Linked DNA regions of Homo sapiens. The protein of the gene in region 1 interacts with the protein of each later gene in a biochemical or structural test. Each region holds a gene or a part of one and is shown on either strand. Other genes may lie near its edges.

What was found.
Region 2: of the proteins of UNG (region 1) and DCAF1, one has a biochemical effect on the other in vitro, tested with the Homo sapiens proteins (2 studies listed by BioGRID, with this or other methods).

What each region holds. Positions count from the first base shown.
Region 1 is NC_000012.12:109,100,442-109,104,260, forward strand, and holds part of UNG (uracil-DNA glycosylase), read left to right. Parts: intron 1-1,460; coding exon 1,461-1,558; intron 1,559-2,397; coding exon 2,398-2,486; intron 2,487-2,991; coding exon 2,992-3,170; intron 3,171-3,819. UniProt on the Homo sapiens protein: Uracil-DNA glycosylase that hydrolyzes the N-glycosidic bond between uracil and deoxyribose in single- and double-stranded DNA (ssDNA and dsDNA) to release a free uracil residue and form an abasic (apurinic/apyrimidinic; AP) site.
Region 2 is NC_000003.12:51,423,264-51,427,082, reverse strand, and holds part of DCAF1 (DDB1- and CUL4-associated factor 1), read left to right. Parts: intron 1-1,074; exon of another isoform or gene 1,075-1,173; intron 1,174-3,819. UniProt on the Homo sapiens protein: Acts both as a substrate recognition component of E3 ubiquitin-protein ligase complexes and as an atypical serine/threonine-protein kinase, playing key roles in various processes such as cell cycle, telomerase regulation and histone modification.

The DNA.
Region 1 (3,819 bases):
GAATAAATCATCTTGATAAGGCAGCCACACCTAATACTTAGAAAATCTCGTAAGCTTAATTTTAGAGTAAGAATTTAGAATCTAGCTCTTTGGTTTTGAAGCTAAATTAAATCCTATTAAGATCAATACTAATTTGCTTCTTGTTTGAATGCCCTATTCTGAATACCAGTAATCAGTATAAACAGGGAATATTAAAAGGAATATTTTGAGGGAATGCTCAAAAACCAGTTTCAAACCTATGAGGATCAGATGGGCCAGCAGGGCTTCTTGACAGACCAGCATTGGGAGAGTTGTTTCACAAGAGAATATGTTGGCATGGTGTGAACACCAAGGGGAGGGACAAGAGGTCCCCAAAAGCCTCCTGGTCATGGAACATCTGGAGCTGGATTCTGAAAGATAGAGTATGTCAGCTGTGGAGGAAGATTCTAAGAACGCAATGGCAGAAGCTTGAGAATGAAGACTAGGTGGGTGGGCCCTGGATGGGAAGGACGAGGCGGCCTATGTTTCAACACCTCCCGTGACAGGAACTTCATTTCATTTCATTGTCTCTTGCCACCTACTCCCATGGCCCTTTTGATCTGACCTCATTCTCTTCTGGCTCCACCTGTTAGAGGATATAGGGGAGCAGACACCCTCATATGCTGCTGGTGGGAAATCTGAATTGCTTTTTTTTTTTTTTTTTTTTTTTTTTTTTGAGATGGAGTGCAGTGGTGCAATCTCGGCTTACTGCAACCTCCACCCCCTGGGTTCAAGCGATTCTCCTGCCTCAGCCTCCCGAGTAGCTGGGACTACAGGTGTGCGCCACCACACCCAGCTAATTTTTGTATTTTTAGTAGAGATGGGGTTTCACCATGTTGGCCAGATGGTTTCGATATCTTGACCTCGTGATCTGCCTACCTCGGCCTCCCAAAGTGCTGGGATTACAGGCGTGAGCCACCATGCCAGGCCCTAAATTGCTTTAATTCATCGAAAAGTAACTGGGGGCTAGGCACAGTGGCTCATGCCTGTAATCCCAGCATTTTGGGAGGCCGAGGAGGGAGGATCCCTTGATCTCAGGAATTTGAGACCAGCCTCAGCAACATAAGGGAGGCCGTGTGTCTACAAAAAGTAAAAAAAAAATTAGGTGGGCATAGTGGTGCACTCCTGTGGGCCCAGCTACTCTGGAGGCTCAGGTGGGAGGACCACTTGAGCCCAGGAGGGCGAGGCTGCCATGAGCTGTGATGGCACCACTGCACATCAGCCTGAGCAACACAGCAAAACCGTGTCTCAAAAAATTAAAAAAGCAGCTAGGTACATATCTTTACAAGTTTAAAATACGCTTAGCCTTTGACCAGCAACTCTGCTATTAGCAATCTATGCCATAGAAGTGTTTTATTTGTTTTGTTTATGTTTGTTTGAGGCAGGGTCTGTGCTGCTTACATTACAGTATTGTTTAATTCCTGACCCCTGGTGGTTCACAGGTGAAGGTTGTCATCCTGGGACAGGATCCATATCATGGACCTAATCAAGCTCACGGGCTCTGCTTTAGTGTTCAAAGGCCTGTTCCGCCTCCGCCCAGGTACAGTTGCTTTACAGGTGACTGCAGTCCAGACATGATTCCTTTCAGATGTGTACTTAGCTTATTACAAGTGGGACTATCTGGGGCACTGTTCACTAGCCTTGGAGGAGGATTTCTCGGCCTCAGCACCATTGACATTTGGGGCTGAGTCATTCTTTGTTGTGGAGGAGGAGAGGAGTCCTGTGCTATTGCAGGATCTTGTGCCACATCCCTGGCCTCTACCACTGGAAACCAGGAGCAACCCCCAGCTCGTGATAATGAAAAATGTGCAGACATTGCCAAAAGTCCCTTGGGGGCGTAAAATCACCCCTGGTTAAGAACCACTGCTTTGGGCCGGGCGCGGTGACTCACGCCTGTAATCCCAGCACTTTGGGAGGCTGAGGCAGGAGAATCGCTGGATCCCGGGAGGCGGAGGTGGCAGTGAGCCGAGATCCTGCTACTGCACTCTAGCCTGGGTGACACAGCAAGACTGGAAAAAAAAAAAAAAGAACCACTGCTTTTGGAGGATTTGGTGTATGATATACATAAATATGCTAAGGACAGAAAACTGTCCCTGAGCAACAGTGGGGGTCTGGGTTGTAACTGCTGGGTTGATTTACTTAGGTTTTCCAGAGTGCTGTTAAATCCAAGTACAGACTAAAGTAAAGGTCTTTGGCAGAGTCACCTGTTAGAAGGAGGACTGGCAGTGTTGATCTCATTAATCGGCGCCATATGTGCCAGTGTCCCTTCCAAGGGCTGGCTGTAACTTCTAACCTTTTCACATATGTCTTAGACGTTACTGAGCTTTCAAAATTATGCTTAAGATTCTGTTTTTTGTTTTTCTTGTGGCTTGCTTTCAGTTTGGAGAACATTTATAAAGAGTTGTCTACAGACATAGAGGATTTTGTTCATCCTGGCCATGGAGATTTATCTGGGTGGGCCAAGCAAGGTAAGCCAGCGACTGCTAGATTTTTTTTTTTTTTTTTTTTTTGAGACCGAGTCTCACTCTGTTGCCCAGGCTAGAGTGCAGTGGTGCAATCTCAGCTTACTGCAACCTCTGCCTCCCAGGTTCAGGCGATTCTCATGCCTCAGCCTCCTGAGTAGCTGGGACCACAGGCATGAGCCACCATAGCTGGCTAATTTTTTAATGTATTTTTAGTAGAGACAGGGTTTCACCATGTTGGCCAGGCTGGTCTCGAACTCCTGACCTCAGGTGATCCGCCCGACTCGGCTTCCCAAAGTGCTGGGATTACAGGCATAAGCCACCACGCCCAGCCCCGACTCCATTGTTGATGGTAGTGGCTGCTGCCATTATGCCGGCTGCAGCAGGGAAGCACAGCTTGCTACACTGGATCCCATCAAGCATTGGTTTCATCATGGATTTAGCTCCTGTTGCTGGGTATTGGGCTGATTTGCCTGAGCCTACATTTAACCTGTTTCTCTCATGTGTATAGGTGTTCTCCTTCTCAACGCTGTCCTCACGGTTCGTGCCCATCAAGCCAACTCTCATAAGGAGCGAGGCTGGGAGCAGTTCACTGATGCAGTTGTGTCCTGGCTAAATCAGAACTCGAATGGCCTTGTTTTCTTGCTCTGGGGCTCTTATGCTCAGAAGAAGGGCAGTGCCATTGATAGGGTATGTTTTGTTTTCTTTCTTTTTTTTCTTTTTTTTTTAACACTATAAAAACAATGTAAAGAATTCTAGGAGTCCCTGCTGTGTTTGGTCCTGGAAAATCCATGTTATAAAATAACTTTTATTTTCCCTTAGGCCTGTTATAAGGGTTTCCCATTGAAAACTGAGAAGAATTTGGACAAATTATAGGGGTGATGAGTTGTGTATGAGGAAAGCAAAGCAACTGGCCAACTTGTGACTGAATGCAGTTGGTGCTGTAGGCATGAACTTGGTGTCTACAAGATACAAGTCCCTGGGTACCATTCACTTAACAAGTGATGGATGAGGCATGTTTCTGGCTTCCAAGAAATTTGGGAACATATAGAAAACACAAAGAATTCCACTCAATCACAAATTTAACTTGCCCATGAAAATACTATCAGTGATCATTATTGTTTTGTTTCTGGGTTTTTTGTTTTTTGATGGAGTCTCGCTCTGTTGCCCAGGCTGTAGTGCAGTGGTATGATTTTGGCTCACTGCAACCTCCGCCTGCTGGGTTTAAGTGATTCTGCCTCAGCCTCCCGAGTAGCTGGGACTACAGGCGCCCGCCACCACACCCGGCTGATTTTTTTTTATTTTTTAGTAGAGACAGGGTTTCACCATGTTGGCCAGG
Region 2 (3,819 bases), on another chromosome or scaffold:
AAAGTCTTGTCTTGAGCCTGGAGTCCAGGATTCTTTAGTACTTAAAGTGTCTTGCTACTACTTGACAACCATATATAATGTTTATATTACGTTCATATAAAATTGTCCTTTTACTCTTGGAATTCGACATACTGTTAGGATTTTCACAAATTAGTTTAAGGCAGAGCAGGACAAGGCCCAGAAAAGGGTGGCTGATGTAATCAGGAAACTGGGTAGGTTCTATTTGAAGATGATATAAAAAGAAATAAAACTGTTTTGAAAAAGATGGGGTCTTAAGAGAAGATAGTAAAAAAGTTTATAAACAGAGTGCTTGACCTTCTTTTCCTATTCACTCACTGCCATAAAGATAAGAGAGGGGCTTATTTAGGGGAATATAGTAAGTTTGTTAAATCCCAGCATTTAAATATTGTAAGGTACTCTTGGAGCAGGTGTTATTAAACTTTTTGGTTTCAAGATACCTTTACCATATTAATAATTACTGAGAACTCTAAAAGGCTTTTGTTTTTGTGTTATATCTATCAGTATTAGAAATTAAAACAGAAAATGTAAAAATATTTATGCATTAAAAATGTGGGCCAGGCACAGTGGCTCATGCTTGTAATTTCAGCACTTTGGAAGGACGAGGTGGGCAGATCACTTGAGGTCCGAAGTTTGAGACCAGCCTGGGCAATGTGGTGAAACCCCATCTCTACTAAAAATAGAAAAATTAGCCGGGGGTGGTGTTACGCACCTGTAGTCCCAGCTACCTGGGAGGCTGAGGCAGGAGAATCAATTGAACCCAGGAGGCAGAGGTTGCAGGGAGCTGAGATCACGCCACTGTACTCCAGCCTAGGCGACAGAGCAAGTCTTCATCTCAAAAAAAAAAAAGTGAACCCATTGCATGTTTGCGTTATTCATGAAAAATTTCCAAAATAAAACCAGATAATTTTAGCAAGTTTGAAAAAATGTCTGGCCTAATATCTCATATCTGCTTCTGTATTCAGTTTTTGTGACATCACATCATCTCTGGAAGACTCTCTTACTATGCAATGAGAGAATGAGAGTGCAAAAGGAAAGTGACATCTTATTATTACGAAAATAGCTTTGACTTCACAGGACCTTCTGAAAGGGTCTCAGACTTCTAGAGGTCTCCAGACTATACTTTGAGAAGTGCTGTTTTAGAATATTGGAAAAGTAGGTTATTATATTTATTTGGAGAATTGTTTAAAAAGTGATGATAGGCCAGGCGTGGTGGTTCATACCTGTAATCCCAGCACTTAGGGAGGCTGAGACGGGCAGATTGCTTGAGATCAGGAGTTCGAGACCAGCCTGGGCAATATGGTGAAACCCCATCTCTACCAAAAATAAAAAAAATTAGCCTGGTGTGTTGCCGCATGTCTGTAGTCCCAGCTACTAGGGACGCTGAGGTGGGAGGATTGCTTGAGCCCAGGAGGTAGAGAATGCAGTGAGCCAAGATGGTGCCACTGCACTTTAGCCGGGGCAACAGAGCAAGACTCTGTCTCCAAAAAAAAAAAAAAAAAAAAGATGACAGCTTACAAGATAACTAGAAAGGGTATAAATACATTTTTTAAACTGGTACATCTGTGTTTATTTATTTTTTTGTTGGTTTTGGAGACAGAGTCTTGCTCTGTTGCCCAGGCTGGAGTGCAGTGGCAGGATCTTGGCTCACTCCAACCTCCACCTCCCAGGTTCAAGTGATTCTTGTGCCTCAGTCTCTGAAGTAGCTGGGATTACAGACACGCACCACCAAGCCCAGCTACTTTTTGCATTTTTTAGTAGAGACGGGGTTTTGCCATGTTGGCCAGGCTGGTCTCGAACTCCTGGCCTTGAGTGATCTGCCTGCCTCAGCCTCTCAATGTGCTGGGATTATAGGCATGAAACACGGTCCGGCCTGTATTTGGATTATTGAAAAAATATGTCCTTGATTTTAAAAATTTATTTTTAGAAATAAAATTAATAAATGTTTCTGCTTTAGAATATGCAGAATCTTTTAAAGAGAAAAGAAAATTACTCTTAGCATTCACTACGTAATATTTGCAAATACACATAATTAATATTATACTTTTAATCAAATTCATCTTTTTTATGAATATTTTCAAAACATAGAAAGGCACAGAGAATAGTTTAACAACTGCTCCATCATTAACCAGGATTGGCATGTTGTTGTATTTGCTTTTGGCTCAGTTCTTTTTCTGCCTCCCCAGAGTCACCCATCTTCTGAATTTGAACCATATTCTCCCCACTCATGTTTTTATACTATATATATCTGTGTGTTCATAAATAATAACGTCATACTGCTTTGCATGTTTTTAAATTATAAATATTTTCCTAAGTTCATCTTTCACAGCTTGCTTTTTTTACCCTTATATTCTTGAGATTTATATATGTTGATATTTATTTAAAATGCTGTATTTCTATACTGCAGTTTATTCTGCCATTGATGGCTAATTTAGTGTTTTTGTTTGGTTTTTTTGGCTATTAAATAAATGGTATCATGAACCTCCTTTTGGAGGCTCTCTTGAGGATATGATGTAGAGCATCTGGTTTGTAGGGTGTCTGTGTTCTTACCTTTATTGGATATTGCCAAATTGCTTCTAAAAATGTTCATACCATTGTCATCCCCCACCAGCAATATATAGGAGCTTTCATTTCTCTACTTTTTTTTTTCTTTTTTTTTTTTGAGGCAGAGTCTTGCTCTGTCACCCAGGCTGGAGTGCAGTAGTGGTGCAATCTCGGCTTATGGCAACCTCCGCCTCCTGGGTTCAAGCGATTCTCCTGCTTCAGCCTCCTGAGTAACTGGGACTACAGGCGCCCACTACCATGCCCAGCTAATTTTTGTATTTTTAGTAGAGACAGGGTTTCACCATATTGGCCAGGCTGGTCTTGAACTCCTGACCTCGTGATCCACCTGCCCTGGTCTCCCACCACACCCAGCCGGTTTTTTCTTTTTTAACTACAAAAGACATCCAACATTTCTCTACTTTCTTGCCAGTACTTGGTATTGTCAGATTTTTAATTTTATATCTTACATTTTTTATTTTTATATCATTAATGTTGTATTTTGAACCCTTTCCCTCATTCTTTAGGGTTCTTTGAAAATGATTGTCAATGGCTGTAGTTTATGAGTGTACTATACTCTAACACATATGGTGCTCTTGTCTATGTGGGTTTTCTCATTCTTTTGCTATTTTAATGTGGCTAATGAACATCTTAATACATAAATTCTTCTGATTATTTCTTTCTTTCTTTTTTTTTTTTTTTTTGAAACGGAGTCTCACTGTGTTGACCAAGCTCGAGTGCAGTGGTGTGATCTTGGCTCACTGTAGCCTCTGCCTCCCAGATTCAAGCAGTTCTTCCTGCCTCAGCCTCCTGAGTAGCTGGGATTACAGATGCCCACCACCATGCCTGGCTGGTTTTTGTATTTTTTAATAGAGATGGGGTTTCAACATGTTGGCCAGGCTGGTCTTGAATTCCTGACCTCAGGTCATCCGCCTGCCTCAGCCTCCCAAATTGTTGTGATTACCGGCGTGAGCCACTGCACCCGGCCTGAGTCTTTTTTCTTTTCTTTTTTTTTTTTTGTGGAGACAGAGTCTCTCTCTGTGGCCCGAGCTGGAGTGCGGTGGCTCAATCTCAGCTCACTGCAACTTCCGCCTCCTGGGTTCAAGCAATTCTCCTGCCTCAACCTCCCGAGTAGCTGGGACTACAGGCGCCCGCCACTAAGCCTGGGTAATTTATTTTTTTAATTTTTATTTTAGTAGTGACAGGGTTTGGCCATGTTGCCCAGGCTAGTCTTGAACTCCTGAGCTCAGGCAATCTGCC